Regions from separate parts of the Homo sapiens genome. Here all the other regions are linked to region 2. Evidence: fine-mapped expression QTL. A gene starts in region 2. Each other region holds a variant in brackets. All regions are shown on one strand. Distances are from middle to middle.

The links. PIP is the estimated chance that this variant, and not a neighbour inherited with it, causes the effect.
Region 1: its variant is fine-mapped to the expression of PASK in whole blood (TOPMed, PIP above 0.99). The same link has a PIP of 0.9 or more in blood mononuclear cells.
Region 3: its variant is fine-mapped to the expression of PASK in whole blood (TOPMed, PIP above 0.99).
Region 4: its variant is fine-mapped to the expression of PASK in whole blood (TOPMed, PIP above 0.99).

Annotation. Positions count from the first base shown.
Region 1 is chr2:241,090,820-241,098,919 of GRCh38, forward strand. It overlaps SNED1 (sushi, nidogen and EGF like domains 1), which reads left to right. Exons shown (of 32, transcript NM_001080437.3): 32 at 819-4,749. MTERF4 (mitochondrial transcription termination factor 4) reads right to left here. Exons shown (of 4, transcript NM_182501.4): 3 at 6,424-6,608; 4 at 4,752-5,619. The coding sequence ends at 5,179. Among named protein-coding and RNA genes, the nearest start is that of MTERF4, 7.4 kb to the right of the region's middle. The variant T/C (reference allele first, on the strand shown) is at 3,462.
Region 2 is chr2:241,144,926-241,153,025 of GRCh38, forward strand. PASK (PAS domain containing serine/threonine kinase) reads right to left here and starts at 4,547. Exons shown (of 18, transcript NM_015148.4): 1 at 4,489-4,547. PPP1R7 (protein phosphatase 1 regulatory subunit 7) reads left to right here and starts at 5,542. Exons shown (of 10, transcript NM_002712.3): 1 at 5,542-5,622. The coding sequence starts at 5,571. RefSeq lists enhancers at 3,501-3,660, 5,174-5,333 and silencers at 3,914-3,963, 4,014-4,073, 4,134-4,493, 5,624-5,963.
Region 3 is chr2:241,116,144-241,124,243 of GRCh38, forward strand. It overlaps PASK (PAS domain containing serine/threonine kinase), which reads right to left. Exons shown (of 18, transcript NM_015148.4): 11 at 7,806-7,990; 12 at 6,589-6,756. Among named protein-coding and RNA genes, the nearest start is that of MTERF4, 18 kb to the left of the region's middle. The variant G/A (reference allele first, on the strand shown) is at 5,025.
Region 4 is chr2:241,061,304-241,069,403 of GRCh38, forward strand. SNED1 (sushi, nidogen and EGF like domains 1) reads left to right here. Exons shown (of 32, transcript NM_001080437.3): 17 at 1,488-1,601; 18 at 2,284-2,397; 19 at 2,709-2,822; 20 at 3,541-3,654; 21 at 3,996-4,292; 22 at 6,461-6,644; 23 at 7,608-7,720. It overlaps SNED1-AS1 (SNED1 antisense RNA 1), which reads right to left and starts at 2,815. Exons shown (of 3, transcript NR_187212.1): 1 at 2,777-2,815. It also overlaps a transcript of MTERF4 not described here. RefSeq lists a silencer at 2,764-2,923. The variant G/A (reference allele first, on the strand shown) is at 3,635.

The DNA of each region.
Region 1 (8,100 bases), 54 kb before region 2:
TTGCGCCACTATACTACAGCTTAGGCAACTGAGCAAGACCCTCTGTCTCAAAAAAAAAAAAAAAAGAAAAAAGAATTCTGTACGATGGCTATGACCTCAGCTCCACTGTAATCTCATGGGACCACTGTCATGCGCGCGGTCCTTCATCGTGCAGTGCCTAACTGTACTAGGATTAAGAATCCACAAACATAATTTGGGTTTGAGATATTTATACGGTGGTAAGTCACCTGAAATATTAATGTATCTTTTTAAATGCTTGCCTAGCACATCCACTCCCATAAAAACAAATCAGAAACCCCCAACTAATTATCAAATACTGACTTATAGAATACCTATTCTTGAAATAATGGAGACAACACACAAAAAAGCAGGAAACAGAAACACACGCACCCAGACACCCATCCAAGAACAACACGAGAATTCATTTCAACCCAGAGCAACCTGACACAGCTGTGCCCTTGGAGAAAAGACCCAGAGTCGTTACCGGAAGGAGGAGGGCAGGGAAGAGGAACAGGCTGTGATTTCACATTTAAAAGTTGCAATGCTGAGCCCACATGTTCCTAAAGATGGGGATGTAGTCGGTGGAGGCTGCCCCTCCCCGTGTGCACTGCCATATGGTAGAATCCTGGTGCTCTAAGAACGCGGGGTCCTCCCCGTGTGCACTGCCATATGGTAGAATCCTGGTGCTCTAAGAACGTGGGGTCCTCTGGGTGACAGAGGCCCTGAGGGCCACTAAGAGAAGCAGGAAGCAGCCCATTTAAAGAGGAGTGGGAATGCCTGTCATTCTCCTCATGCTTCACTTTGTTTTTTCTTCAAAGGATTTAAGACGTTCTTGTTACACTCCACCAACCTCACGAGTTTCTAACACCCAGGAAGATGAGGTCTAAAAACTGGATGAAAAAGGACACCCTGAGAAAAGGTCCTAGCTGGAGTCAGTCCCCTCTGTGACCTCTCTCCTCAGGCCTCTAGAGGACAGATGGCCAGGCCTGTGCACACACCAGCCCACCCTGAGAGACCCCTCTGGGACCAACCACCTGTGAGTCCTGCGATGCGTTTAAGCAGCCTGTGCCCTCACCCAAGCTGCAGTTCCTGAAGGTGTAGTCTGTGTCTCTGCGGATGAGATGACAGCTCGCCATTCCCCGGAATCAGTGAGGCTGTCAGTCAGCCACGCTTCTGCAGTATGCAGAAACCTGTTCTTAGACTCCAAAGCCAGAGAAAGAATTCTCCCTTCGAGGCCCAACAAATTGAGAAGGAACTGTGATGGACCACTTCCAAAACAGAGACGGGGGCAGGGGCTGAAGGGCAGAGACCAGGTGATGTCAGAAGGAAAGCCGGGTTGCAGACACAGCCGCCCCTGCTCTGGTCCTCCAGCGTGTTTATGACGCTCGTGCAGGTCGACGAGCCATCCTATGGACTAGTTAACACTAAGGTGGAGTTCAGACTTTTTTAGACAACGGCGCGACTGGCAGCCTTTCTCTATCAAGGGTCAGACGGTAAACGTTTTCAGCTTTGCAGACCAGAGGTCCCTGTGGCTACAGTAGCGCAGACACAGCCACAGGCATGTCATTGAATGGCTGCGGCTATGTTCCAATAAAAACTTATTTACAATAACAGGTGGTGGCCAAATTGGCCCATGGGCCTTATTTGGTGAACCCTGTTCTATGAGATCACCTAGGCTTCAGCCTTAAACAGTGGAAGCCATCCCCTGAATGACAAGTCACAAGGGTATCAAAGAAAGACCCCTGAATTTTCATGGAAAAAGCTATTCAGACCCCTGCTTGGAAAGCTAAGGCACACTGCCACGAAGCAGCAAGGACGCCTTACAAGTCTCAGTGCAACAGAGATGGACACCTGGGCTGGGCTGGACAATGTTTAAGGTTCCTTTTAGTCCATGACTCAAGTGATACTGTTTTAGGCTATCAGGTAGTAAACACGATCTTAGACATCCCCATCTTTGTAAGCAGAACAGTACGGCACTTCACCACATCTGCTTCCCACCATGCTTCTAAGCAGCTGTCTTCCCCCTGCTAATGTTACAACCAAAGCAGCCACCCCACCTCCTCTCGTGTTGAGCCTCACGACCGCTGACCCAGCTGGAAAGCCAGCGCCCTGCCGCGTCACCCTGACTCTGCTCAGAGCCAGCATTCCAGCCACAAAGAGGGCCTCCTTCCTTTCCTCTTTCATAAAAATGTTTTTTGAAGAGTTAGAGTATATTTTAGGCTTTTTATCTTTATTAAAATTTCATGTGCATGTGTCTGTGTATTCTGCAATTTGTCATTTTCAGAAAGAAGGAACAGGCAATTCGCGAAGTTTCACCTGTACTCCCGAGCTGTTCCCCAGGCTCCAGACCCACTTGAGAGCAGAAGGTGGAGCTCAATGAAGGGTCTCGAGCTCAGCGAAGGGTCACTGGGTGAACTGAGAGAAACCACGTTCACAAACGCGTACTGCGGACTTCCTGCCGCCCTGGGACCTGTCACTGTTTGTCCATGTAAGCTACAGCATTACTAGCAGATGCTAAGATCGAGTGATATCACTGGAAAAGTAGGTGAATCCTACTAGGAAACTTTCTACTCCCTACTAGGACCTCAAGCCCCTCAGCCACACAGCAAATGCTAATATGCTCCAGTGTTAGCTTAGAAGCCTTGTGTCAACAAGAACTGGCTCCTGAGTCCCAAGCTTGGTGCCACACAGCAAATGCTAATATGCTCCAGTGTTAGCTTAGAAGCCTTGTGTCAACAAGAACTGGCTCCTGAGTCCCAAGCTTGGTGCCACACAGCAAATGCTAATATGCTCCAGTGTTAGCTTAGAAGCCTTGTGTCAACAAGAACTGGCTCCTGAGTCCCAAGTGCTGTCACAGGACTTGCCCATTGGGATGTTTTCCACATTAAATATCAAGTAAAAAGACTTCCTGGTGCTCAGGAATTACAGTTCGTTCTTGAAACATTCCAAAGAGGCCACCACAGCTTTTCCCATGTGGCTTCTTTTAAAAACTCAAATGGCTTCCTTGAAAATACTCAAAGTCCACCCAAGGAAATTAGTAATAATAGAATCAGAAAACTGTCAGGAGCATAAAGATTTCTGTATCAAAATGAAAGAAGCAATCCTGAGTTGCTGAATTACCCATCTGCTAATGAAACCGGGATGGACTGATCATCTAACCAAGTGCAGACTGAGGATTCTACTTAGTCCTCCGACTGGGTACAACAACAGCCTAGGTTCTAGGGAGGGTGGCAGTGACCGGGATGCCACAATGGAAGAGAAAATGAAAACACTGGCACAGTGAAATGTCTCATTTCCAAACAGTTTTGCCTATGGCCAAGCAAGGCAATAAAGACAAACTCTCCCTTTTCCCCATTGCGTGTGGGCTGCCAGGTACAAGTAAGGGAATCTTTGCTGTGCCCACTGTCCTCCAGTAGAGAACCCAACAGGCAAGGGCCCCACTCAGGTATCAGCTCACCTCC[T/C]GCACCTCCCCTTAGCAGGAACTCCTTCCACTGGCAAAGGACTGCCACTGCCATCTGACTCAACTGTGGCGATGTGGACGGAGTCACCGAGCTGCTTTTCTTTTGCAAAACAAAAGTCTTTTTCTTTGCAGTCACGCTGTAAGACGAGGCTGCTGGAGAAAACAAAAGCACCTAGATTTCAGTGCTGAATCCCCACAATTGCATGCAGCTCACACCTACCAGGGGTATTCCAGTGCATAGGGGAAAGGAACCCGGCTGAAAAACCAGCTCCTTATTTTTCTTTTAAATAAAATAATACGATCCTAAGTCCATTTACCATCTGAAGTTGTCACGAGTGAACAGTCACATTACTGTTGTGGACCAGGCCTTAGATGAGTTTCTCAGGCTCAGCACTGACATTCTGGGCCGGATCATCCTCTCTTGTGGGACCATCCTGTGCACTGCAGGATGTTTCACAGCACCCCTGGCCTCTACCCACTAGAATCCTACAATCTACCAGATCCTAGGATCTAGTTGATCCTAGAATGCTACCAAGGAGACTTGAATTTTGGTCCCATCATCAAAAATGCCTTCTGCATCAATCCTATGCCAGTTTCCCCTAAAAGAGGGCTAACTGGAATGTTCTAGGATGTACCAATCCTCCAGGACCCTCTTAGAGCTCATGCCATCAGAGACAGGCCTCTATCTCAGGGATCACCCCGGCTGACATCAAATTCCTCTTCTCTTTTCCCAACATTTCAAATTGTTCTTCGGACTCATTGAGTTCCCTAAGGTGACACGCCCCCCCCCCCCCCCACACCCACCTTGGGGGGTCACGGATTGCTCCCTGTGGCCCTGGCTTCAGCCCACCTGCTCCATGACCCTATGCTCTTCTCCTCTGGTTCTCGAAGCTGTCTGTAACCAGGGCAGGGGAGATAACTGTATGGGACCATTCCCTGGCCTCCACCTGCCCCAGCACTCTCCAGGCCAGCACAGTCTGGCACTACAGACTACAGGGCCGGAGACACCAGGCTTGGAAGTGACCACTGGCCAAGAGCTGACATAAAAGCCAACTTCCCCAAACAGGAAGGGCCTGTTCTTCACAAAGATAAAGAAAACTGCCAGCATTTTGCTGGCCTTAAGAAGCCATGCAAAATTAACCAGTACATCATGAATTAACTTCTTTTACTCTGCTGTGCACTGAATACCATTATGAAGCAATATACTTTTGGATTAAAAATAAGCATTTTTGTGGAAAATCTGCTACATGTTTTCATAAAATAAAGTGCTATGATGTACTAAAACCTCACATTGCCTTCTCGTAATTTTATTTTTATCACAAGAAGGAAATACATAGTGATTCCTGAACCGGAAGAATGAACCCCATCTTCCAACTGTCACGGAATTATCACCAACATATTCAAAAGAGAAAAAAATAAAACCAATTGTTGATATATTGAGTCCCCTTGATGTGAATAGCTCAACATAAGTATCTTATTCAGGATGGGACAGGGCCCTCCCCACAGACACGTGACAACAGATCAAACATGCATTTCCTGTTTCCTGTTTGGTTTGATCTGTCTGCCTCTCAGGTGACTTATAATTTTTTTCATCAAGAGACCAGTTTTAGAATAAAAAATAACTTGAGAAGATTCAAGTAAAGGACCCAAAAGCTTTAAGAGAATGAAAAGCTTCCTTGATATCTCTGGGCCCTTTCGCTCTAGTCCTTCCATCACAGCTATTCCTCCTCGTCGTCGTCCTCATCCTCATCATTGTCCTCCGCCTCGTCGTCGTCCTCATCATCGTCATCCTCATCATTGTCATCCTCATCATTGTCCTCCTCATCATCGTCATCCTCATCCTCATCCAGACTTGCCCTTTTGTCATCAGATGTGCTGCTCTCAGACTCCTCCTCCTCCCGAGCCAGGAGCTTCTTAAAAACTTGAAACTCCTCAACAGAAGTACAGGCTGTCCTGGCCAAAAACTCAGCTTCTGAAACTCTGAGAATGTCCTTGAGCAATGGGTTAGGGATCTGTGTCTGCCCCTTCTTATCAGGGGTTTGGTACCGTCCCAGGCGCTCCAGGTAAATGTGTCTCTGCTTAATCTTGGTTAGTGAATACTGCAAGTACTCACTCTTTACAATGTCTGGATGCTTAATTCCCATCCTGAAGTATGCATACTGGAAGACACAAACACACTTAGGAGTCCCAGATACAGAGTATTGAAACCTATCATTCTATAAACCATAAAAACTTAAGTTGTACAAAAGGATTCAAAAAGAATTGCCTAATTGACAACAGCGAATACCCAGTCTAGGATACTGACATTTGTGTGACAGCCAGCAGTTTCAAAACACTTTCAAATTCATCCTGAGAAACATGGAGCAGGAAATAAAGGGGTGGGAGGGAAAAGGGGCAGGAGGGAGAAGGGGCAGAAGGAAGAGGTGGTATTTTTCTTTAAATGGGGAAGGAAAAGGATGAATATGGAAAGAATAGGCAAAACATTCAGAAAACATCTAGAAATTCGACCTAAGTTGTCATAATTATTACCAAAAAATCGGACAACTGTTAAAATTACATTTTCAAAATCAACATGCAAAATAGATTCTAAGGACAGGAAGGTTTCAGCTATTTTAAAATTAGCTATTTCAGAGTCCCCACTTAGACTCTAAGAATAGGACTGGATCATTCATTATTAATGGCAGAAAAGTTGAAGAATAGGTTTGATCTGTAGTAAAGAAATTAAAGATTTCTCTTTGGCTGATGTATGCAGAGAATCTAGTCTTTCACTTCCTCCACTCAAATATGAGGTGTCCGAGGCTTCTTATCCATATAACTGACCTTCACTACATTTGAAAAACCTGAGAAACTTGCTGTTACTACACTAATCACGGTACCAGTCATTCTCACCTGAAACTACGCTAATCCCATTACCAGTCATTCTCACCTGAAACTACGCTAATCACGCTATCAGTCATTCTCACCTGAAACTTGTATTCCAGTTGACCCAGGTCCTCTCGAAGAACAGAGGGGCAACTGTGCAAAATCTTGGTGACTTGCTGTACCGTGAAAAGGCACTTCTCCTTGAGAAGCCTGACAGTGTCGTTAATGTCCTGCTGGCGCATGGTGAAAATTTCAGGGCAACAGTAAAGCACCCTCTTTAATTTCCCTGCAGAACATTCAAAAAAGGCAAGCATATAATTTCAGGATACTCCAGAAACTCAAGGAGCTAGCTGCACCCAATTTAAGTCCACATTTAAAAACAAACAAGGATCCTCTCCTTCCACAGAGCAAGTGGCAATTTCAGATCTATCTTCCCAGAAGCACCATGGAAATGATACATCTCCCCACTGACTTCCTGACACTCCTCAGACTCACCATCCTTCCCTCCCTATATTCCTGCTTTATTCTGGCCTCCCACCTGAAAGGTGCCAACTTTGTATTTTGGGTCTCCTCTTGCCCTCCTCACTTGGAAAAGAATTTCCCAGGCATTTACTGGAAAGATCAGAGAGTAATATGGGAGAGTAGTTTCCTCCATATTGCTGGTTTGGGTTGATGTTTCCTTCTATAATAAAATAGTCATTGAAGCATTCACAACTAACATTCTCAAGCTGAACTCAATGAAAAGGAGTTCCATCACCATCGTCATCATAACAGTAATAACAATAATAGTAATCATGAGGACACACAACACCAATGCTGACGTCCTGGTTACCAGGGTCACCATATATCTTCTCCAAGCCAGGGCACCTTGAGTGAAAGAGGCCCTATTAAAACCGCACTAACTGGTGTAAACTGGGACTATTCCAGGCCTTCCTAGGGATAGCTGAGCAAAATTCAGTAATGGGAAACTTAAAGTCAACTATTTAAACTGTTAATTAAAATTTTCCTAACATTTGAGTTAGTGATTATCTTAATATGTGAGGAATTTCAGTTTAGGTTTATCTTCATTTCTTAAGGCTGTGCTGAGTTTGCTAATTAATCACCACCACACATAATATATTTAGACTTTTAGATTACACTGTAAGAATCTGTTAAGAAAAATATACAAGGCTACCTTTTTCTTATCTTCTAGAGAAGGAGGCCTGTAGAGATGCTGTGAAATGGTGGATCCTAAACCTTCTACCACTGCCTCAAAAAACATCTTACCAGGAAGAGTCAATAATGCAAAGAAATAATAGTGGAACTCCTCTGGTCAAAGTGGGTAAGGGTCCTTGGAGACCCCCAACTCCTCCAGAAGGCCCTTAAAGAGATTCAAGGAACTTTGAGCATCCTTGAGATGTGAATATTGTTGGGGGCAGGAGTGGGGGATAAATAGAAGGGAAGGCCACTCCACGAGTATCCCAGGAACCTGGCCAGATCTCTCATGTTCCAGAGTAAATCTAAACACTCGACTAGAATCTAAGTCTTTACAAGAGATGTTGGTTTGACATCACATCACAGAGACAGAGCACTAAGACCATTTCATGTTGATTTAAACATCAAATGCTATATGTACACATATTTATCAACATCACATTATCAGCATCAACCCACTGAACACATACCATATGCCCACCACTGCACTAGGTGCTGAAGATCCCACGGTGAACAAGGCAGACAAGAGTCTCTGCCCTGGCACTCAATTTTTTCTTCTAGTCTTAACTCCTCCTCCTTCCCTC
Region 2 (8,100 bases):
TTTTTTGAGACAGAGTCTCGCTGTGTCGCCCAGGGTGGAGTGCAGTGGCGCGACTTCGGCTCACTGCAACCTCCGCCTCCCGGGTTCACGCCATTCTCCTGCCTCAGCCTCCCGAGTAGCTGGGACTACAGGCAGCCGCCACCACGCCTGGCTAATTTTTGGTATTTTTAGTAGAGTCAGGGTTTCACCGTGTTAGCCAAGATGGTCTCGATCTCCTGACCTCGTGATCCACCTGCTGCGGCCTCCCAAACTGCTGGGATTACAGGCGTGAGCCACCGCGCCCGGCCGACTTCTCCCTGTTTGTATGTATCTTCACATGGCCATCTTTTTTTTTAACTAGGAGATGAGGTCTCACTATGGTGCCCAGGGCATAAAAGATCTGATCTGTGGAAGTCAAAACACTAAACTTTTTAGCCAGGCAGGTCTCGTGGCCTGCACCTATAGTCCGAGCCACTCTAGAAGCTAAGGCAGGATAATTGCTTGAGCCCAGGGAGATGGAGGCCAGCCTAGGCAACAAAGCGAGACCTGTCAAACCAAATAAAATATAAAATAAAATCACTAAGTTTTTAGGAGAAAAGAGGCTATCTGTAAGACTTTGGGGTAGGGAAAGTTTTCTTAAACAAGGCACAAAAAACTCTAGCTATAAAATAAGATTAATAAGTTTAACGTTAAAATTGAGAACACATCACACCTGTAATCCCAGCACTTTGGGAGGCCGAGGCAAGCAGATCACGAGGTCAAGAGATCAAGACCATCCTGACCAATGTGGTGAAACCCCATCTCTACTAAAAAAAAAAAAATTAGCTGAGCATGGTGGCACACACCTGTATTCCCAGCTACTCTGGAGGCAGAGGCAGGAGAATCGCTTGAACCTGGGAGGTGGAGGTTGTAATGAGCCGAGATGACACCACTGCCCTCCAGCCTGGCGACACAACCTGGCAGGTGGAGGTTGCAATGAGCTGAGATCACGCCACTGCACTCCAGCCTGGCGACACAGCGAGACTCCGTCCCCCCCAAAAAAAAGAAAAAAAAAAATGAGAACACAGCTTCACAAAGAATACCATAAAGAAAACGAAAGAACAAGCCACAATTTGGGAGAAGATATTTGCCACATACATAACCAACAGAAAATTAATATCCAGAATAGCTTTAAAAGATCAACTATTTAAAATTTAAACATTTTTAAAAGACACATGGCCCAATAAAAAATGTCAAGAAATAGGAACAAGCGTTTTACAGGAGAGGAAATCCTAATCATGATGATGTTATACCTACTAAGTCAGCAGAAATGAAGAATCTAGTAATACCCAATGTCAAAAAGGATTTGGATCAACAGGAACTCTTAATACATTAATATAATCTCTTTAGAAAACAATTCAAGTGAAACATTTGTCTATATGGATACAGCACTTTTCACTTAGATTTATATTTCAGAGAAATTTTTGCAAACAGATAAGAAGACACCAGAATGTTCGGGACAATATGGTTCTCAATGGCAAAGAGACAGGCAGAAAAAAGGGAGGGAAGAAAGGGAGGGAGTGCGGGAGAGAGGGAGGAAAAAAGGAAATGAAACCCAAACACTCTTTAACAAGAAGATAGATTTTAAATTCTGGTATATTCATACCACTAATTACAGCAGTGAAAACAAATAAACTACACACAAGGGTGAATCTTAGCCATATACGAGTGGAAAAAATCAAGTTACGGAAGACAATCAGCAGGAGGATTCCTTTGTCATGAAATAATCTAAATAAGTAGTTCAGGGAAACACACCTATGTAATTAAACTACTTCTTAAATAAGAGACTGGTAAACCTAAATTTCAGGCAGGTGGTTCCCTCTGGGTCAGGCAGGTGCAAGAGTGGGGAAGAGGCACAAGGGCACAGGTCCCCTGATTTCCTAGGGTGATGGGTTCAAATGCATCCACTCTGCTGGTACAATTCATGACTAACACTGCCTTTATTCTTTTGTATGAATAAACTGATACGGCCAAAAAATTCAGAGACATTCACACACAAACCCAGCCTAGGACCCTGGAAGGCAAAGGCTCTGCAAACCTGCAGATGTGTAGGAAGCTATTACATATAGGGTTTGGGGTTCGAGTGTGCAGCTTTCCTACAAGCAGCAACAATGAATGGGACCTTTAGTTACAGGTTTACATCTCCTTCTCTAAGCATCCAAATGCACTAATTATTGCCATAATAAATAACAATGACATGATTATAGTGTGAGGCAGTTTTTTCTACTTTTAGAACCAACCTATAGACAAAGCTCAGGACACTTAATTATAGCTTCAGAATACATTGTAAATGTTGTAAAACCTTACTTTCTTAAAAAAGTAATATAACTCTTCAGAATACATTGTTAGAAAACTTTAATTCCTAAAAAATATAACTCTTCAGACTGCAATGTCAATGTTACAAAACTATTTTAAAAAGTCATATACCCAGTACTTTGGGAGGCCAGGCAGATTACTTGAGCCCAGGAGTTCGAGATCAGCCTGGGCAACATAGGGAGACCCCATCTCTACAAAAAAAAAATTAAAAATTAGCAAGGTGTGGTGGCACATGCTGGTAGTCCCAGCTGCTTGGGAGGTTGAGGTGGGAGAATCGCTTCAGCCCAGGAGGCGGAGGCTGCAGTGAGAGGACACAGCACCACTGCACTCCAGCCTGGGCCACAGAGCAAGACCCTGTCTCAAAAAATAAAATAATAAAAAAGTAATATAACTATTCAGAATATATTGTAAATGTTACAGAAGTTTCTTTGTAAAAGTAACTAACATGAAATGGAAAGGGGGAAAAAAAGCAAAGGGAGGGTAAGGGCATGCAATTTTTTGTCCTTCATGGGAGAAAGTAAATAAATACCAACTAAAGTTGTGGAAGTTTAATTAGGTTACTGAGAGTTACAAGCCTATCCAGGAGGGAAACTGATGGGACCCTCTGCGGGAGCGGGGAGGACAGCAGGAAAGATGCATCCTTTTTCCCGCTGTGCCTCCTGGGCATCTGAAGTCCACGTGGGCCAGTTTGTCACTGAACAGCATAGGCCCCTGGAGCCTCCCGTGCACTCCACAGCCACAGCCTGGCCTCAAGAAAGAACAGAGTCTGGCTTCACATGACCTTAGATCACTAAATTTTGACTCAGACGTTAACCAGAAATACCTGCACGTCCAGGCCCAAATTTTTAAAATTGTCCTTTGTATCCACTGTGAGCTGCAGACACGGGAACCCAAACCCAGCAGACAGCACCTAATGGTGCCACCGAGTAACCATATTCCCATTGCTAGTTTTGATTCCAGAAGACACAAGTGACCCCACCTCAGACCAAACAGAAGCAAGGACAACTTTGCAGGGAGCATCTCGGCGAACTTCTAGAAGCAACTGTCCCCCTCCCACCAGAACATAAGCTAAGAAGCAAACAGCTCCCATTGCTGTCAGCACAGCTGTACAACAAAAAGGAGAACCAGTTTCAGGATGAGGCCAACAAGGTGAACAGTGCAGTAGAACACAGCAAGGATGTCAGTCCTGGAGGAGGCACCTGCAGAGCCGGGCCCTACCAAGCAGAGTGAAGAAGTCTTTCAGAGGCAAAGCCTCCCAGAGAGGAGTTCAGTACCCAGAAGAGTAGGTGGACGTGGGCCTGGAAGGGCCAAGCATGAGCCCAGAGCCTCCTATGCCTGCCCAAAGTCTTAATTTTATCCCCAAAATGAACTTTTAAGGATTCAATGCTTAGGAGTAACATGGCCAGATATGCATTTTACAAAGATTACTCCAGGGACCATGTCGGTGCAAGGCTGGAAAGCAGGAGAAAGGCTACAGTAATCCAGGCAAGAAATTATAAAGTCTTAAATTAAGGTAGCAGCAGAAAGATGAAGAGAGGGAACCCCTAAGAGAAAAATGGACATCGAATGGTACTGAGATGCGGAAGGTAAGGACGAGAAAGGCCTCAAGACGGCAGCGCAGGCCCCTGCCGTACTCTGGGAAAGAAAAATTAGTGAAAAAATTAAGGCTCAAGTCCAGGTCTTTGCTGTAACCACGAGCGCCGGCGGCGCGCGCCCCCGACCCCGCGGCGCCGGCTGAGCCCGCAGGGACCCACACGCCCAGTGCAGGAGGCTGGCGGGATCCGGGCTGGTTCTCCTGGAGCTCGCCCCGCAGGGCCGGCTGCGGTGAAGAGAGCGCAGGGTCCCGAGGCGACCCGAGGCGCGGGGCCTCGGCGCCCACCGGGCAGGCTACACTGAAGGGCACCCCGAAGACGCTGGGGGCGCGGGGCCCAGGGCCAACGGCCGCAACCCCGCCGCGATTTGGGCACGGAGAGGACGCGGGCTCGGCGGTGCGCGAAGGGCGACGGGCGCAGGGGCGGGAGACCCGGGGTCGGGCTGGTCTAAGAGTCGGGCGGCGGATCCTCCTGGGCCAGGGGCGCGGAGCCGCGCAGGCCCCACAGCCGCCCTGGGGAGATGGCGGAGCCCGGCCCGCTCTCCCGAGCGCAGGTATCTCACCTGGATCAGGCGAGGGTCACGCCAAGCCGGCTACACACCACGGAAAGGAGCCCTTCCGCGCTTTTATCCCACCGACCAATCGCACAGCGACTAGCACCGATTGACAAGCTCCACGGACCAGCCACTTGCGCGTATGGGCGGGACTAAGCTAGCCAGAGTCTAGAAGCCCGCGCTAAGGGTTGCTAGGGACGCACCAAACACCCCTACGGCGCTTCGGAGGAGCCAAAGGAATAATGGGCGCCTCCGCCCCCGGGCCGGGCAGATGCGGTTTCCTCCCGACTCGCGATCAAAATGGGTGAGTAGCGCAGAGCTCGCCTCTTGGAGGCCTCTTTCTGAAGGCGGAGGACGCGGGGCGGCTCGTTCATGGGCCGGGTGGCTCCGCAGGGTAGACGAAGGCTGCAGCGTCCGCACTGGGCTGGGAACGACTTGCAAGGGGAGCCCAGCTGGCGCCCCGGAGCCAGCCAGCTGGCTAGCGGCCCCACCAGCGCAAGTGCCCCGCACCTGCCCGCCTGCTCCGAGCGTCAAGAGAAGGCGGCATTTCGCATGGGTAAAATCCGCGCGGGGACGCCGGGAGAATGTTGTTGCTCTTGCCGTTCGGCCCATTGTACAGACGCAGCCAGCGAGGCTCGCAGAGGTCAGGGATGCACGTAGGACTGGCCCGCACCTTGCAGCCACGGAAAGATCCGCCTGGCCCGCGGCCCCTCCACGCCTCCGAGGTCGAGACAGTGACATAAGTCAACTCTCAAGCCCAGGGCGTCTCTCCACTCTGCCTAGACGTCCACTCCGTCTGCCTGCAGCTACGGCTCTGTGCGTCCCGCTTCGACTCCCTCTGCTTTCCTTCCCAGCTTCTCGCCTCCAGACTGTTCCGGCTCCGCCGCCTGAAATTACCTGCTCTGGGGGAGGCGCGGCGCGCGGCCTCATGACGGAACTACAACTCCCATGAGGCGCTGGGCCCACGCAGGCGCGGCGCGGCTGAAGTCGCCGCGCCGGAATCCCATTGGCAGGGCCGGCTCTGAGGCGGGAGCCCTGATTGGCTGAGGGGTCTGAGGCGACAGATTCCGGAAAGGGGAAGAGCAGCCAACATGGCGGCGGAACGCGGCGCGGGGCAGCAACAGTCGCAGGAGATGATGGAGGGTGAGCGGCCCCTGCGGGCGGCGGCCCAAGGGCCCAGCGGGCGGGGGGAGCTGCGGGCTGGAACTGCTCCGTGCCTGAGAGAAACTCCACGTCCTGCCTCTGGCCGCCGCCGCGCGGCCCCCTGACAGCTGACAGCCGGACCCGGGGGAGCGGGGGAGGCGCTGGACCTCGGGGGAGCCCCGGCCCGGGGGCGGCAGCGGCCGGGAAGGACCCAGAGCTAGGGGGAGAGCGGCGGCGCGAGGCCAGGCCGGGGGTGGGGCTGAATGGGACGCGGTGGCTCCATTCAGTCCAGTTGGAGCCTCGCCCCGAGCCTCTGAGATTGACGGGCGGGGGAGCCTCCTCGGTCAGCTGACGAGGAAACTGAGGCGCTGGGATCTACCAGAGTCTGCTCCTTGGTTCACGTGGTGAGGGTGGAGAAGGGTCTTCTCTTGAAATCGAATGGACTGTTGGGAAGGGGTAACAAGGAACCGGAAGATTGAGTTACACAAGGTGATACCTGTTTTCAAAGCTGTCATAGTTCCAAAAAGTCTGAATTCAACTTTCTTCCTCCTCATTCACTTTGTTGGAAAAAAAAACCACATGCATATATGTATATGTTATACGTACACATGTGTTTATAATTTTCTGCATATCTGTAGGTACAGTCATATACGTGCACGTACAGTATGTGTGTAAAAATGCGTGCACACACCCACTTAGCAACTGGGGAATCAGTTGTGTCATCAGCTTAAGTACTTTTGGGTCCCATGGTTTGGTGAGGGGTACAGACCTCCCAGAAGAGCAGTCACTGCCTTATGTGAAAGGGGTAGGGAAGAGGAATGTGGAGCTGGGGAAGGAGGGCGGGTGCAGCAGGAAGGCCTGACATGTTAGGGAGTGGTGACAGCTGCAGAAGCAGGGCGAGCTCTGAGCTGGAGCCTGAAGAATAACTCGAAGGCAACGAGGTTGGGGATAGGGTGAGGGAAAAGAGCAAGAATCACTCAAGACGGAGAAAACTGCTGTCAAAAGGTGTGGAGGAGAGTTTGACCAAATCGTATGTGGTGGGGATGGGGGCGGTAGTGTTAAGGGTCTTGGACTTCATACCCTTTGAGTCTTTTTAAGAAGCGCCTCTTCATATCCTCCCACTCCCTCTTCAGCTGTTTCCATGTCTTGGTAAATGACAGATATAAAAGCCCGGCTTTTCTCACTGTCCCACTCCCACCCATGTCCTGTTAGTCAAGGAGCTCTGACTTTTACTTTTGAAAGTATCTCCAAATCTCCGATACGTCCTCCATTCCCATTGCCAGTACCTTAACTCAGACCTTCATCATCTCTAGGCTAGATTGATTGTCCCTGTTCACCAGCCCATCATCCCCAGTACACCAAAGTCATTTTCTTACATGCAGAGCCACTGTCCCATGTTCCAGACCCTCTCTGCTGCCCTCAGGCTTCACTTTGGCCAACCTTCGTTAGCTAAGCCTTTGCTAACCTCACACCACTCCTCCTCTTACTGGGGTTTTTGTGCCAGATTGTCATGCAGTAGAACTTTCTCTCCCTGAGCCTGGACCACCAAGTGACCTGTGCCTGGTGGTGACTAATTTGTTATATATCTACTGCATGTCATGCACGTGCTAACTGCTCTTGTGCCTTTTCTAATTTAACCGTGACAGCAACTTGCTGAGGCATAGGTGCTATACTAGCTCCCTTCCACAGACTAGGAGATTGAGGCTTTCAAATGGAAACGATTTGCCAAAGCTGCATCTCTAGCAGCAAGATGCAAACTCAGGAAGAGCATTCCAGAAATACTTTTGGACTCAAAAGATCAGATTTGGATTTTAGAATTAGATCAGACTCTCTGGCAGGGGAGAATAGGTTAAGCAGGGCAAGACAAGTCACAGAGACGAGTTAGGAGGCAGGGCAGGAGCCCAGGCTGCAGCTAATAAGTAAGTGAGCCACCGTCATTGCGGGGGTAGGGAAGAAGAGATGGATTTGGAGGTTTTGGAGGTGGGTTTTATAAGGACTTGTTTTCTACAGCAATCCTTTCTTGGGTTTTACTTTGCTAGGCTAAGCGGGAAGTACAAAGATGAAGTTGAACTTTTTCCCTCAAAGAGCACATCTCTTTGTAGATAAACCATAGTCAGGAAAGAGTATTTTCAGTATGGTTGATAATTCCAAGTAATGTGTTAGTGCCTCATGTTTTCCAGACAGACTTCCAAAAGAGGTCATGAGTAAAGTTATAAAAAAGAAAAATGATTTGACAACCTTACCAAAGAATTTTTACCTGACACATTGAATTGCCTTATTCTTTAATTCAAAAAATATTTATGAACCTTTAAAAGCCTTAAGTTGCTAACACTCTGTCCAGTGTCCAGTGTGAAAGCTCATTTCACACCAATGAGCTTTCTGTGGGCGGTCAGCACTATTGGCTGTATTCTCCTTTTCCTTAGTGATCCTCCCTGCCCACAGTCTGATTTGAGTTAGTCTTGATTTCTTTCAGAACGT
Region 3 (8,100 bases), 29 kb before region 2:
CCTCAAGCATCCCATTCCACCAGGGCCACCCAGTCCTCAAGCATCCCATTACACCAGGGCCACCATTGGTCCATGCGGCAGACACATCCCCTGCATTTACCTCCCCTAAGTCCCACGGACATGAAAGAAGAAACAAAGTGATAAACGCCTGCAGCACAAGGAAGCACAGAAGGGGGTCAGCAGCTGACCAGAAATGCAGCGTCATTACTGCCCATTCTGTAAGGTGGACAGATGGGTGAGATGGAGAATCCAGGTGGAGCTGAGGGAGCCATAACCTGGGCTGGAGAGAGGGCCCCAGAGGCCTCAGGGCATGTGCCCCGGAGAACATCCACGTCACCCCGACTTCTCAACCAAGGACTGGAAAGCCCTGGCCAAGAGAATAAACGAAGAAGCCAGAAAACTAGAAAATACAAAGAAAAGCTATCACTCTTAGACATGTTTTCAACATTGACTCTGAGATTAATCAGACTTTAGCAAGACTGACAGACATAAGGTAAATATAAGAAAAACAGTGCTACCACAGTCAATGATAGTCAAAGTGTAACAGAAAAAGATACCATTCACAAAAGAAAGAACACTGCAAGTCGCTGAAAATCTGGTCGCCCAACACAACGCCTGCTGCTACGTGGGTGTCGGCACGCAGCTGAAGGAGCGATGGGCAACCCAGCGGGTGCCAACCACAGGATGGGCCTGTTCAGGTGTCAGGAAGAGATGCTGAGTGAGATCACGCACCAAGGAACGATGAGTGCCAAGAAGGAAAAAAAGATGGGGCAGGAAGTGCCGCGGGGGTGCAGCCCCTGCGAGGTGCATGGGATAGGGAGTGAGTCCCGGGAAGGCAGCTTCTGAGCGCCTCGGGGAAGGCCCTCCAGGCAGAGGGCAGCGGGAGCACAGGACTGTGGCAGAGCGCACCTGAGCTGTGAGGAGGTGTGAGGGAGGCGGGGGGCTGGGCAGGCAACGTAAGTGGGCATCGGGAGGGCATCGGGGCCAGGGCGGGAGCAGGAAGAATCATCGGAGCCTGGGCAACATCCAGGCCTCTCACCGTCATCAGGAGAGAAGGGGGCAACTTGGGTGCCAGCCTGTGAGAGGTGAAAGGAGACAAATTCTGAAGACCCTTTGACGGGAGGGTCACTATGGCCCAAAAGGCCAGAAGTGAGACTGAGGGAAAGCAAGAAGACGAGGGGAAGCAGGCTGTGGTCCTGAGGAGCAAAAGAAGGGCCTGCTGAGATGTGGCAGAGCTCCAGAAGCCTCCGGGAGGGCGGGAGCCCTGACACTCTAGGTGAAGAGGCCTGCGGCCTGTCCAGCTGCAGGGCCAAGGAGACAAGAGGGCAGGCTCCTCCAGGGGGGCCCATGCACACCTAAAATGAGTGTCAGGAGGAGGGAGAAGGAAAGAATTAACGGAACCAAAGAACGGAAGCTTTAAATATTCAGATCAAAGTCTTACCAAGTATCAAGCAAGAATAAAGAAAACACACACAAACATAAACCCCTAAAGACATCCTGGTGAAAACTTTGAAAGACAAAGATTTTACATCTAGAAAGAAAAATAAATCACGTTTTGCTGTCAGCAAAATTCACTTCAAAATAATGCTAGATTACAACAGATACAGGTCTAAAAAGTTCTGAGAGGAGAAAGGCATATCATCACTAAAATATGAGAGAAAAATAAACACACTTTAATACATACAAGGACTGAATGTATAGTACCCATGAATCCTTCCTGGAAAAACTGGCAACGAATATATTCTAGCAAATGAAAAATAAACCTGGAAAAAAGAAGAAACTGGACATAAAAATAATGGAGACTTAACAAAAGAACAACAAGACTTGTACACTGAAATTACAAAACACTACCGAAAGAAATTAAAGATCTAAATGAATAGAAAACTTTCCACGTTCACAGATCAGGAGACTAAATATTGTTAAGATGACAATACTCTCCAAAGTGAGCTACAGATTCAATGTGATTCCTATGAGAATCTCAGCTGGCTTTTTTGCAAAACTGACAAGCTCATCCTAAAATCCTTAAGAAAGTGAAAAATGGCCAAAACAATCTCAAAATAGCCAAAACAAGCTTGGAAAAAAAAAAAACACAAAGTTGAAGGACTAGCATTTTCCAGTTTCATAACTTACTACAGAGCTACAGTAATCAAGACAGTGTGGTACTGGCTTAAGGACACACTTAAGATAGAAAGACAGACTATAGATCAATGGAATAGAATTCAGAGTCCAGAAACAAATCCATGCATCTATGGTCAACTGATTTTTGACAAGGGTGCCAAAAACCACTCAATGGGGAGAGGACAGTCTTCAACAAGCAGTGCTAGTACAACTAGATATCCACATACGAAAGGGTGAAGTCCAACCCCAGTCTCACACCACACACAAAAATTAACTTCAAAAATAGATCAAAGACTTACATGTAAAATCTAAAACCATAAGACTCTTAGAGAAAACATGGGAGTAAATCTTTATGACCTTGGGCTTGGCAGAGTCTTCCTAGATATAACACCAAAACACAAGTGACAAACGGTAAAAGAGACCAACTAAACGTCATCCATTTAAAATGTTTCTGCTTCCCAGTCTTCAGGAGCCCCCAGTGCAAAGCCCAGGGGCTGGCAGGGGCCCACGGCGCAGGGCAGACAGCCTGGCCAAGGAACAGGCCAGCGTGTACACCAAGCTGTGTGGTGTACACACCCCGCACCCGGTGGAGGCCATGATGGGGCACTTCCCGCAGCTCCTGGACCCGCAGCAGCTGGCTGCCGAGATCTTCTCATACAAGTCCCAGCACCCCAGTGAGTAAGCTGCCCGTGGCTGGCAAGGGCAGCACCCCCAGCCTCCAAGGGCTGTCAGGCTGGGCCTTGCGCCATCGAGCAGCCCGTTCCCAGCCCTGAGGCCCACCCCAGAGGCTGGACAGAGGGAGGATTCAAGTCGGGAGGGAAGCCCACAAACCAAAGATACCATAGGACTGGTTCTGGCCCATGCAGCACCTCTAGGTGTCTGCCTGAGTGGGTCAGAAGCGATCACCCTGTTGATACACATTGTATCTCTGTAGTTTAAGGAGACGCTGCCAGTAACGGCGTCCGTCCATGGCTGAGGCCCAAACTGTCTTTTCTTTCGGAGGGTGGGGAGGGAGGTGGGGACAGCAGAGGCCTGGGCTGCGTGCCCTGTGCACGCCACCCCACTTCCGCCCTACCCCTGGGACGTTGGCCTTGGCTGGCTAGTTGGGCATCATGTGCCCACCCTCCAAGGGCCTCCTCTACACCAATGAGGCCTCATCCATGCTCTCGCTGGGCATGTGGCTTCATGTCAGTAAGCAAGATGCTTCTTTTTTTTTTTTTTTTTGGAGACAAGAGTCTTGCTCTGTCGCCCAGGCTGGAGTGCAGTGGCGCAATCTCGGCTCACTGCAAGCTCCGCCTCCCGGGTTCATGCCATTCTCCTGCCTCAGCCTCCTGAGTAGCTGGAACTACAGGTGCCCGCCACCACGCCCGGCTAATTTTTTTGTATTTTTAGTAGAGACAGGGTTTCACCGTGTTAGCCAGGATGGTCTCGATCTCCTGACCTCGTGATCCACCTGCCTTGGCCTCCCAAAGTGCTGGGATTACAGGCATGAGCCACCGCGCCCGGCCTGCAAGATGCTTCTTAATAACCCACCTTCTGCCCCACTCTGTTCCTTATCCTGCTGCCCCTGTAGGAGTCAAGGGCCCTCTGTCTACACCCTCTCCTCCTCCTCCATCCTCTATTCAGAGTCATCTTGTCCTTCCCCACGGGTGGGGGAACATGTGTATGTTTGTGTACACATGTAAATTTTAAATATTTTAAGCAGAAAGTCCTTACCTCCTATAAACCATCCATAAAGTACAATCAATGTGAGAAAATAAATAATAAAATTAATAAAATAAAATAAAATGTGCTTCAAATGAAACATCAAGAAAGTGAAAAGACAACACATTTAATGGAGAAAATATTTGCAAATCATATATCTGATCAAGAAATTGTATCTAAAATACAGAACTCATACAATTTAATAATAAAAAGACAACCCAATTTAAAAGTAGGCAAAGGGGCAGGGCCAGGCACAGTGGCTCACACCTGTAATCCTAGCACTTTGGGAGGCTAAGGCGGGTAGATAACCTGAGGTCAGGAGTTCGAGACCAGCCTGGCCAACATGGTGCAACCCCATCTCTACTAAAAATACAAAAATCAGCTGGGCCTGGTGGTGTGCACCTGTGATCCCAGCTACTCAGGAGGCTAAGGCAGGAGAATCGCTTGAACCTGGGAGGTGGAGGTTGCAGTGAGCCAAGATTGTGCCACTGCACTCCAGCCTGGGCGACAAAGCAAGACTCTGTCTCAAAAGAAAAAAAAAATGGGCAAAGGATCAGAACAGACATTTCTCCAAAGAAGATTTACAAACAGCCAATAAGATCATGAAAAGACACTTGACATCATTAGTCATCAGGGAAATGCAAATCATAACCACAGTGAGCTACCCCTTCACACCCCCTAGAATGGCTAGAAATGAAAAGACAATAATAAGTGTTGACAAGGATATGTAGACCAGGAACCCTTGTACACTGCTGATGGGAATGTAAAAACAGTATAACCTTTTTAGAAAACTGTTCAGCAGTTCCTCAAAACATTAGACACAGAGTTACGACATGACCCATGAAGTGCACTACTAGGTATATGCCTAGAACTGAAAACATATGTTCACACAAATCTTATATACAATTGTTCATAGAAGCATTATTCCTAATGGCCAAAAAATGGAAACAACACAAATGTCCATCAGCTGATAAACGGATAAACAAAATATGGTGTCTGTTCATATAATGGAATATTACTCGGTCATAAAAAAGAATGAAGTACTTATACATGCTGCAATATGGATGAACCTTGAAAACATTATGTTAGATGAAAGAATCCAGTGACAAAAGAGCATGCTGTGCATGATTCCATTTATATGAAGTGTCCAGAATAGGCAAATCTATTGAGACAGAAAGTAGATTTGTGGTTGCCCAGGATGG[G/A]ATGGAGGAAATTCGAGCAGGACGGGGGTTATGCGACTGACTACTGATGGGTATGAGGTTTCTTTCTGAGGTCATGAAATGTTCTTCGTTTGTGGTGATGGTTGCACAATTCTGTATATACTAAAATCTACTGAACTGTTCACTCTAAATGGGTGAATTATATGGTATGTGAACTATATCTCAATACCGATGCCAAAAATCATGATGAAATATTAAAAACTAACAAGAAACAAAAACATGACATAATAAAATATAGTCAACAGAAAGTAGGAAAAATAGAGGGGAAAATAACAAAGCACAGAAATATCCAGAAACAATAGAAAACATCTAGATTTAGATTATAGATTTAAATCCAGCCATATCAGTAATTTCATTAAACATCAACGGTATAAACACCTCAATTAGAGACTTTCAGACTGAATTTCAAAAGCAAGATCCAAGTGTATGCTGCCTACAGAAGACCATTTTAAATATAGACATAAATGACTAAAAGTAAAAGAATGAGAAAAGTTTACTATGTGAACACAAATCAAATGAAAGCTGGAGTAGTCATACTAATATCAAAGTAGACTTCAGAACAAGGCATATCAAATTAGGAATTAGTTCATCAAGAAGATGCTATGATACTAAATGGGTATTCCTATAACAACAGAGCTTCCAAATATATGAAGTAAAATCTGGGAGGATTACAAAGGGAAACAAGCAAATCCACAAGTATAGGTAGAGACTTCAAAACATAATACAAGCATCAACAAATTTAAAGAAACTGACATTATACAAAGTATGTTCTCTATAAAGAAATTAAAAACAAAAAGATATCTGAACAATCACCAAATAATTGGCAATTAAACAACACACTTCTAAATAACACAAAGTAACAACGTATTTGTAAATGAATGAATGTGAAAGCACAACATATGAAAATATGTGATACACAGATAAAGCTGGGGTTGGAGAAAAATTAAAACATTAAATGATTATATTAGAAAAAAGCATAGCTCAAATAAATGATCTAAGATACCACCTTAGGAAAATAGAAGAAGAAAATAAAATTAAATCCAAAGTAAGAAAAAATAATGAAAAAAATTTTTTATAATAAGAGAAAAGTCACAAGATTGAAAATAGATTATAAATAAGAAAAATTAATGAAACCCAAAGCAGGTTATTTGAAAAGATTAAGCATGTTTTCAGCATGCATGTGCAGTGCCCGTGAGATATGAGCATCTCAGTGGGGAGTAGGAGAATGGTGCAAGCCCCAGGCTCAGAAAGGAGGGAACACAGGTCCAGATGTGGGATCTCAACACAATGGCAGGAGGCGAAGCCCTGAGCCTGGCCTGTTCGAGGTCTGAATCTACAATTGGACGGGATCAGCAACCCTGGATGTCAACGTGTGTGCTGCTGGGAGAGCCTCTTTGAATCCGGAAACCGCCCACATGCCAGGTTGTGTGCTTGGTGCCATACCTAGAGGACTCCTCCAAAAACCCCAGGTTTGAGAACTGGGACCAAAAGTCGAGAGCCATGTGAAGTGGTGCCCGGCGCCACTCCCCCCCCACAGCCAGGTTACCTCCTTGTTTTTTTCCTTGTCCACAGCAGTCCACACGAAGCCGAAGGCCCCACTGCCCAGCGGGCTCATGGTACTGTACTTTTGGGAGTACTCGCCCTCACAGGCCGCCAACCCCTCCAGTTCCACAGCCTTGGGGGGCTCCTCAAACCAGGGTCTGGCTCTGAGCACCTGCAATGCAGAAGAAGGTCTGTGGGGTCACATGCAACTGCACCGGGCAGAGGTGCAGCACCCACAGTGGTCCCCCTGCGTCTTCAGCAGCCGCCCGAGGCAGGTGTGCCCTGCACTCCAGTCCCCTCTCCTCCCATGCTCTCAGACAGGTCTGAAAGCCTATCTCCACAGGGCACCCCAAGCAGCCTCAGCACACTGATCCCAACTGGCACACATGTCGAAACGTGTTTACACCCCACCATATACATGGGCCTAGGCAGATTTAAAGTGGCTTCTTTTTTTTTTTTTTTTTTTTAGACGGAGTCTGGCTCTGTCGCCCAGGCTGGAGTGCAGTGGCGCAATCTCGGCTCACTGCAAGCTCCGCCTCCCAGGTTCACGCCATTCTCCTGCCTCAGCCTCCCGAGTAGCTGGGACTACAGGCGCCCACCACTATGCCCGGCTAAATTTTTGTATTTTTTTTAGTAGAGATGGGGTTTCACTGTGTTAGCCAGGATGGTCTTGATCTCCTGACCTCGTGATCCACCCGCCTTGGCCTCCCAAAGTGCTGGGATTACAGGCTTGAGCCACCATGCCCGACCTAAAGTGGCTTCATAGTCACACTGGATATTAAAAGACAGTGTGAAAAGTTACAAAGAGGGCCAGGCGCAATGGCTCACGCCTATAATCCCAGCACTTTGGGAGGCTGAGGCAGGTGGATCGCCTGAGGTCAGGAGGTTCAATACCAGCCTTGCCAACATGGAGAAACCCAGTCTCTACTAAAAATACAAAATTAGCCAGGCGTGGTGGCGCGTGCCTGTAATCCCCACTACTCGGGAGGCTGAGGCGGGCGAATCACTTGAACCCGGGAAGCAGAGGTTGCAGTGAGCTGAGAAAGCACCATTGCACTCCAGCCTGGGGAACAAGAGCAAGACTCCGTCCCAGAAAAAAAAAAAAAAAGCTACAAACAGACTGTATTCCCGTCCCCAAGGAAACAGAGAGAGATGCCAACTAGGATATTTGCCACACAGTACAAGGCAAGTCCAGGGCAGGCATTGATTGCAAATACCCACTTCCACCAGGCTGGGTCCGGTGAGCTCAGCAGCGGTAGAGTGGGTGGAGCCGGGCAGGCTGGCAAGGAACAGGCGGGTCCTGGCGGCTGAGTCGCGTTGGCTGTGGAGGAGGTCTTTCACCAGCCAGCAGCAGAACAGAGGTGTGGGGCCCTGGAGCTCCACCCGCCTCACCTCAAACTGTATACCTGAAGGGTGAGAAGGTAAGAACGCACAGGCCTGTGCTGACCTGGCTAGACAGCAGCTTTAGGTTAGAAAAGTCCAGTCCCCAGAATGCAACAGTCCAATCCCCAGCAGC
Region 4 (8,100 bases), 84 kb before region 2:
TCAAAAGTGCAATGAGGTACATTCAGCTGGTAAATTTTCAGAAGTCTGAAAAGCCTATACCGGTGAGAATGTGGATCAACAAGATTTCTTATGCATTGCTGGCAAGAGTATAAATTGCTAGAAGCACTTTGAAAACAATGTGGCACTCTGCCTGTTGAGCAATCTGCCCACTGTTGCTCATTTACGTCAACTGTGTTCCAGCAATTGCACTTCTGGGTATAAACCTAAGAAAAACTTCACGTCTGCACCAGGAGATGGGAAAGAATATACACAGCAACATTTTTTGTAAAAGCAAAAAGTCTAGGCTGGGCGTAGACTCATGCCTGTAATCCCAGCACTTTGGGAGGCTGAGGCAGGCGGATCACGAAGTCAGGAGTTCGAGACCAGCCTGGCCAACATAGTGAAACCCCATCTCTACTAAAAATACAAAAATTAGTCGGGCATGGTGGTGGGCGCCTTTAGTCCCAGCTACTCGGGAGGCGGAGGTTGTGGTGAGCCAAGATCATGCCACTGCACTCCAGCCTGGGCAACGAGCGAAACTCCATCCCCCCAAAAAAAAAAAAAGAAAAAAAGAAAACAAAAAAAGGAAAAAGTCTAGAACCAACCCAAAGACCCAGCCAGTGAGAATGGGTGAAGTATGATATAACCACACTGTGTAATGTTATTCAGCAGTGAAAATCTATGAACCACAGTGACCTACAGTGTGGAGTTCTCTTCTTCATATAATGCTGAGAGAAGACAATATATATCATGATGTACTATGAATAAAGTTCATAAACAACAAAAACATTCACTATTGTTTAGGCAATTTATAAAATTTTTAAGCTAATTTTAATTACATATTTTACTGCCAGAAAACCTAGTTTTTAAAGACAAGGAAATTATAAACCCAGAGATTCTTATCGCAAGGGAAGAGAAGGGTACACGGTCGGATGAGCCCATTCAGCATTCTGGCTGCCGGGGTGGCTGCTAGTCCCAGATGTCACTAAGTCATTACCATTTATTTACTTTTTAAGCATGAAATTAAACTTTAAAAAAATAAATATTTAAATTCAGGAGCACAACTCCCGCTTGAAAAGAAAGCTGTGGTGAATCATTTAAAACCAAGATTTGTCCCAGATGGACTGGTTTCACAGGTGACTATTATACATTGAAATGGCAAGATGGGACATGAGACATTTTCTGTCAAACCCCTGAGGCCTTTGTCCTGTCGGCCTGAACCACTGGAATTAAGTCCCACAGCGTCTTCTGGGAGCCCTGGGGTGGTTTCAAGCCCGCCCTGCTGCTTCACAGACACAGCCAGGCACTGAGCCCCAGGCCCACTGCCCTGCCCCGACTCCAAGGATATCCAGCCCTGGTCTCTGGCCTTTCCAACCACTGATGATGTATCATCGAATTCTGTCTGGCCCCTCAGGACTAGTTTATGTGCATCTTAATTTGGCTTAATCGTGGCCACATTGCTTTATTCTTGGGCTCTCTCCTCTCAGAAATCGATGAGTGCCGGTCTCAGCCGTGCCTGCATGGGGGCTCTTGTCAGGACCGCGTTGCTGGGTACCTGTGCCTCTGCAGCACAGGCTATGAGGGCGCCCACTGTGAGCTGGGTAAGAGGGGCCCTGGCCCCGCTGGGGTGACAGCTGCAGCACACTGGCCATGTGCCTGAGGCACTGGGTCCCCCGGACAGGTCTCTGTCTGGATGGCCAGGGTGGCCACTGCATGCTTTCTCGGGCCCCTGCCAGCTCTGACATCCAAGACAAAGATTTTACAAATATCCCTTCCTGCACCTCCCCAGGGGAGACTGAGAGCCCAGCTGAGAAATGCTGGCCTGGCTTCAGGGCGCAGAGAAGGTGGGCGTCGGAGAGGGCAGGTCACAGTCTCTGACACCTGGTCGGTGCTTCCAGCCAGTGGAGGGAGGGGAGGCCTGCCCCATGAGCCCTGCACACTCTTGTACCTCGCTAGGGCTCTAAGCCTGAGAAACGCAGGCTCCAGGGAGGGCAAGGCCCAGGGAGCCGTGCCCAGTCGTGGCCCTGGGGAGCCTCCCATTGCGGAGTGGCCTGGAGGAAGGCATGGCCTGGAGGTGGGGCTTTGCCAGCAGGCAGTGGAGGTGGCACGCCTCCCGAGGAGGGGTGGGTTTGGGGCTGATGGAAGAAAAAGCACATGTCCTGAGTAGTTGCTCCCAGCTGGGAAAGGGGTAACTGAAGCCCCAGGAAATGCACGGAATCCTGGGGGCATGTGGGCGCCTCAGACTTGAGCCAGCAACACCCTTGACACCCCTTCTCTGTGCAGAGAGGGATGAGTGCCGAGCTCACCCGTGCAGAAATGGAGGGTCCTGCAGGAACCTCCCAGGGGCCTATGTCTGCCGGTGCCCTGCAGGCTTCGTTGGAGTCCACTGTGAGACAGGTAGGGGCTCCCTCCAGTGGGCCCCACATGCAGAGCCTGGGCCTCTGGAAGATCAGAGAGGAGGTGGGGCATCCCCACATTCCCTGCTGGGCAGGCCACCTGGGGAGAGGGACCCCCAGGGCTGCGGCCACCTTGGGAGGGAGGGGTGGAGGTGAGGGTGCTGGGGAGGGCTGAGGGGCGGGACCTGCCCACTGCCCCTCTCTCCTGGCCTCCGCCCCTAGACTCCTCCTTTCCCTTCTTCCCGCTGTCCTCTCCTCCCTCCCCCAGACTCCCCCCTTGCAGCTTGGGCCCACTCTCTGGGTGTTCTCCAGAGGTGGACGCCTGCGACTCCAGCCCCTGCCAGCATGGAGGCCGGTGTGAGAGCGGCGGCGGGGCCTACCTGTGCGTCTGCCCAGAGAGCTTCTTCGGCTACCACTGCGAGACAGGTAGGGCGGCAGGCCTGCCTGCTCCCCGCCCTCTGCCCGCCTGCTCCCCGCCCTCTGCCCGCCTGCTGCCCGCCCTCTGCCCGCCTGCTCCCCGCCCTCTGCCCGCCTGCTCCCCGCCCTCTGCCCGCCGCCTTGGAAGTCCCCTTCTCAGGCCAGTGGCCCTCCGCCTGTCTCCCTTGGTCCCACAATGGTGCCTTCTAAACCTCCCCATCTCCTGCGCTCACCCCCCAGACACCCCTCTTCACCCGAGGACACACCCAGGGGTGGGGCCTCACGTCCACACATAGGCCCTGCTGCCCTTGGACAGGCCAAGTTTCTTGCACACCCAGGTCTGGCCCCTGGCTGTCCTTCCATCTGGAACATTCTCCCTAATCAGCCCCCAGTGGGATACCTCCTGATGAGGCTTCCCTGACCACTGACCTCCCCTCCTCAAGCAGGACTGTCACTGGGGTGGTGGCCTGTCCTGTCCTGATCCAGTGTCTCCTCCCCTCAGCCAGTCCGGCTGGTGGCACTCCGCTGTGGAGGGTGGAGGAGCTGCTGGGTTGGGCCCCGCAGGGCAGTGGAGGTGGCAGAACCGAAGGGAGGCAGTAGCTGTCCTGTGCCCCCCGCCCCTCCACACCCACGCAGGAGGGACCCAGTGCCCCAGGAGCAAGGGCGGGGCTGGAGCAGGGACCCCTGGCCACGCCCCAACATACACTGCCACTTTTTCTCCCCTCAGTGAGTGACCCCTGCTTCTCCAGCCCCTGTGGGGGCCGTGGCTATTGCCTGGCCAGCAACGGCTCCCACAGCTGCACCTGCAAAGTGGGCTACAC[G/A]GGCGAGGACTGCGCCAAAGGTGGGTGGCGAGGGCGCCTCCAGTGAGGGAGCCACGAGGGGGTCCCCTCTCCCTAGAGGGCCCAACGGTCTCCAAGGGCAGAGCGTCTGGCCGCTGCTTGCCCAGGCCCCTTCCCTGAGGAACAGGGAGGGGATAAAATCCCCCGGTGGGCTTGAAACACGGTCACACATTCAAAAGTGTGACCCTCCTGGAGGTACGTGGCCAGGGACAAAGAAGGACTCTGCCAGCGATGGCTGTGTCAGGCCCAAGAGCCAGACCCGGCTGAGCCGCCGACGGGAGCCAGGCATGCATAGCTAACGGCTGACCAGTCCCCTCCCCTTGTTTTGACCCAAACCCTGAAGAGCTCTTCCCACCGACGGCCCTCAAGATGGAGAGAGTGGAGGAGAGTGGGGTCTCTATCTCCTGGAACCCGCCCAATGGTCCAGCCGCCAGGCAGATGCTTGATGGCTACGCGGTCACCTACGTCTCCTCCGACGGCTCCTACCGCCGCACAGACTTTGTGGACAGGACCCGCTCCTCGCACCAGCTCCAGGCCCTGGCGGCCGGCAGGGCCTACAACATCTCCGTCTTCTCAGTGAAGCGAAACAGTAACAACAAGAATGACATCAGCAGGCCTGCCGTGCTGCTGGCCCGCACGCGTGAGTGTCCCCGAGCCTGGCCGTCCCTGCCCAGCCCCTGCCCCTCGAGGGCAGCGCTGGCCCCGGCACCTGCAGGGCGGCTGTCATGCCGTCCACCCTCCTAGTTCTTGCAGCAGCAAGACAGACAGCTGAGCTGGGGGTTGGAGGCACCGCCCTGCTGGAGACAGAGCTGTGTGGGAGTGGCCTTGGGTCCACAAGATACAGGCATGGGATTGGGGCGCATAGAATCGAGCCAAGAGTGGGAGCAGCACAACCCCCAGGCATGGAGCTAGGAAGTGGGACTGGGGAGGAATGGGGGCTTCCCAAAAGGGTCCCTAGAAGGAGCCAGTGTGGGAGACAGGGGCCGCGGGGGTGGGCTTGGGGGGGCTGGGACTCTGGGGTGCTCTGAAGGCCTGGGGAGAGTTTGAAAGAGGCACCTGCTCACAGGGATATGTAGGCGCTGAGGTGTGCTAAGGGGAGGCATCGGTGGCTCAATCGGGAAGAGCCGTGGGGCAGGCCCTAGATGGAATGACAGACCCAGAGCCTCCACCTGGAGCTGGCACTGAAAGCTGTGACCAGATGTGACCCCTGAAGAGGGGGTCCTAGGAGGAGCCTCCTCAGAGCCTGAGCCACCAAGATTGCAGGGGAGGCCCGGGTTGTGCACAGCCTGTGGGGTTGTTGCCGTGTCGGGGAGCAGAAGATGCTGAGCGCTCTAGGGAAGGCGTCAGGGCTTAGCGGGCTTGTGTGCTGCTGGGAGGGATTCTGGGAAGGAGAAAGGAGCCCTAGAACATGGCAGTGGACGGACAGGGGCAGGGCCGGAAGAAAGCAGAGGGCTGGCCTTCCACGGAGCCCGGCCGCATCAGCTAGAGCACAGGGGATCTCGGAACAGGCTGGGCAGGAACCAAGTGGGGTGCAGGGCCATGGGGCCATGGGACTCTCACCCAACATGCCTGTGGCCTCCAGACACAGGAGCAAGAATGGGGAAGGGGTGCTAGAGGCTCGAGGAAAGAGGAAAAGGTGCTGAGAGCACAGACTGCTGCGAAGTGGCGTGATGGATGGATGGGTGGGTGGGTGGCCAGGGCTTCAGGGAGGCCTAAGCATCCAGCAGGGCCCTGCGGGGCGGCCACGTGAGTTTGGTGAAACCTATGGGTAGCATGGCGGGTAGGTGGGGAGGAGCTCGGCGGTTCTCACAGGAGGAAAGCCTCCTGGCCACACCTGGGCCCTAGCTTGATGCCAATGCCAAGGGCATTGAGGGACAGGAGAAGGCATTCAAGGCAGCTTGAGCCCACCCAGAGGCCCACAAGGGCCTGTCCTGCAGGAGTTGACCACCAAGGGGCTGGAGTTCCCAACACAGCAAGGACACAGAGCACACCTCGGCCAGTGGAGAGCCTGGGCGCATGTGCGGGTGGCACTGAGCAGGTGTCAGCAGGAGCTGCCAGGGGCTGAGTAGGGGTGGCTCGCCTGGGCTGTTTTAGGAAGAAGCACCTGCAAGGCCGCCCCATGTGAGATCTGCCCTCGGAAGGTATCTGGAGTGAAGACAGAGCCCGCCCTGCCCGCTGCAGAGTTGGGGCTCCAGCCAGCCATGGTGGGTGGAAGGGACCGCTGTCCACAGACCGGGGTGCTGAGTTGCCGGGAGCTGAGCGCTGCCCTCTGGGCTCTGCCTGGTGCATCAGCAGTGGCACTGGAGCTTCGGAGGAGACTGGCTGGGCGGGAAGCGGAGCTCACAAGTGGCCCCTTCCCTGCAGTTGCTGGGAGTTCTGTATGTCTGTCCTCCTAAGACAGCGTTGCCCAGACCAGGCCCGGATGTGTGCTCTTAGACCAAAATAGTCAACTGGCACAGAAAAGGGGAGGTCCGGGTTACTCATGTCCAGAGGGACTCCGGCCCATCCCCTGCCATGTCACTGCCACATCTAAATGGAGACTAAGACCCCTGCCTCTGGTAAGACGGGCTGGCCCACAGCGGGCTCTGCAGCCGTCATGCTCACAGCGGGTTCTGCAGCTGTCAGCCCTGGAGGCCAGAGCCTGGGCATCCCACTCAGCCCGAGTTCCCTGAGCAGTTGATGGGACACCCTCTCCAGTGCCTCTCTGTGGCCCCCAGCACCCTCCCAAGCCTGGTTTCATCTTGAGCCCCTGCACTCCCCCAGGAGCAAGGAGGGGCCGGCACCTGCTGAACAGTCCATTCCCCCTAGGACCCCGCCCTGTGGAAGGCTTCGAGGTCACCAATGTGACGGCTAGCACCATCTCAGTGCAGTGGGCCCTGCACAGGATCCGCCATGCCACCGTCAGTGGGGTCCGTGTGTCCATCCGCCACCCTGAGGCCCTCAGGGACCAGGCCACCGATGTGGACAGGAGTGTGGACAGGTTCACCTTTAGGTAAGAAGGGACACCCAGAGCATGGGGCTGGGGTGAAGGCAGGGGTGGGGGCTCGGGGACACGGGGCCCAGGTCTCGGGCACATTCTCCGTGTGTGGACTGTACCACCTGCCGCTCCTCACCTGAGCGGAGACAAAGGTCTCAGGTGAGCCAGCCTCAGACCCTGGAGGCTTCACTCCCGCCTCACCTCATCAGGGCTGCCAAGAGAGGATACACCTTGGTAGTGTTTTAAAGTGTCCAAAAAGAGCAGGAAAAGCTCAGAAAATCCGGGGGCACACTTTCCACACAGATCATGAGAGTGACTTGGCCCCTCAGAGAGCAGCGGCCAGCGAGGGTAGATGGTAGCAGCCCCGAGCTCTCCCAGGAGTCCCACAGTGGACCCCTCAGAGAGCAGCGGCCAGCGAGGGTAGATGGTAGCAGCCCCGAGCTCTCCCAGGAGTCCCACAGTGGACCCCTGTGATTTGGTCGCCAACCAAAGAGAAAGCTTCCGAATCGTGCTCAGCGCAGGCAGGGGTGCAGGAAAAGATCGGAGAGCGAGTGGGAAGGAAGACTCCAGCCAGCAGCTTCCTGGGGCTGGGGTGGCATTGGCCTCACGTTGTCCTGTGGTTTCCTGAGAATTTACATCAACTCACCTGTGCTGAGGGCCCGTCCCCCATCCCTGCACAGTGACCACTTCCCCCTTCTCTGGCCTCTCCCAGCTGAACACCGGCCCTCTGACCATACTGTAGCAGCCCCAAGCGCACCCGATCCTCCTCCGCTGCCCGGACTATGGGTTGGCTTCCCGCCCTAGGAGCACACGGCTCTGAGGGCCATGAGTCTGCCCCTCGTGGAGGTTGCCTGGGCCACCAGCAGCAGGATGACCTCCCCGCAGTCACCTCCTGCCTGGGGGAGCTGCGGTCTGGCAGCAGAGTCACACACAGGTCCCAGACATCCCTGTTCTCTCTTTGTCACCTCCTGCCCACAGGGCCCTGCTGCCTGGGAAGAGGTACACCATCCAGCTGACCACCCTCAGTGGGCTCAGGGGAGAGGAGCACCCCACAGAGAGCCTGGCCACCGCGCCGACGCACGTGTGGACCCGTGAGTAGAGCAGCGCGGCCCCCGGCACACGAAAGGCCGTCTTCTAGAAGCTCTGGCTTCCTTCCAGCCTCCCCTAGTCCTCTCCAAAGCGTCCACAACACCAGAAACCCAGCCCCTGGCCTCCCAGATGTCTCTTCCGCTGGGGCCACTGGGCAGGAGCCGCTGGGCTGGGCTGGGCCCTTGTGCTGGGACAGCTGTCCAGGGCAGTCTCCATCTCTAAAGGCTCCTGGTAGCTCCTCAGCATGGAGTTCCTACTGGACACCGACCAGAGGGCCAGAGGACCTCACTGGGCCAGGGATACCCATGCTATCCAGGGCCCTTGTACCTTGCAACCAGCCCCCTCTAGCTAAGCTCCCTAAGTTCCTGGTGTCACTAGGCCC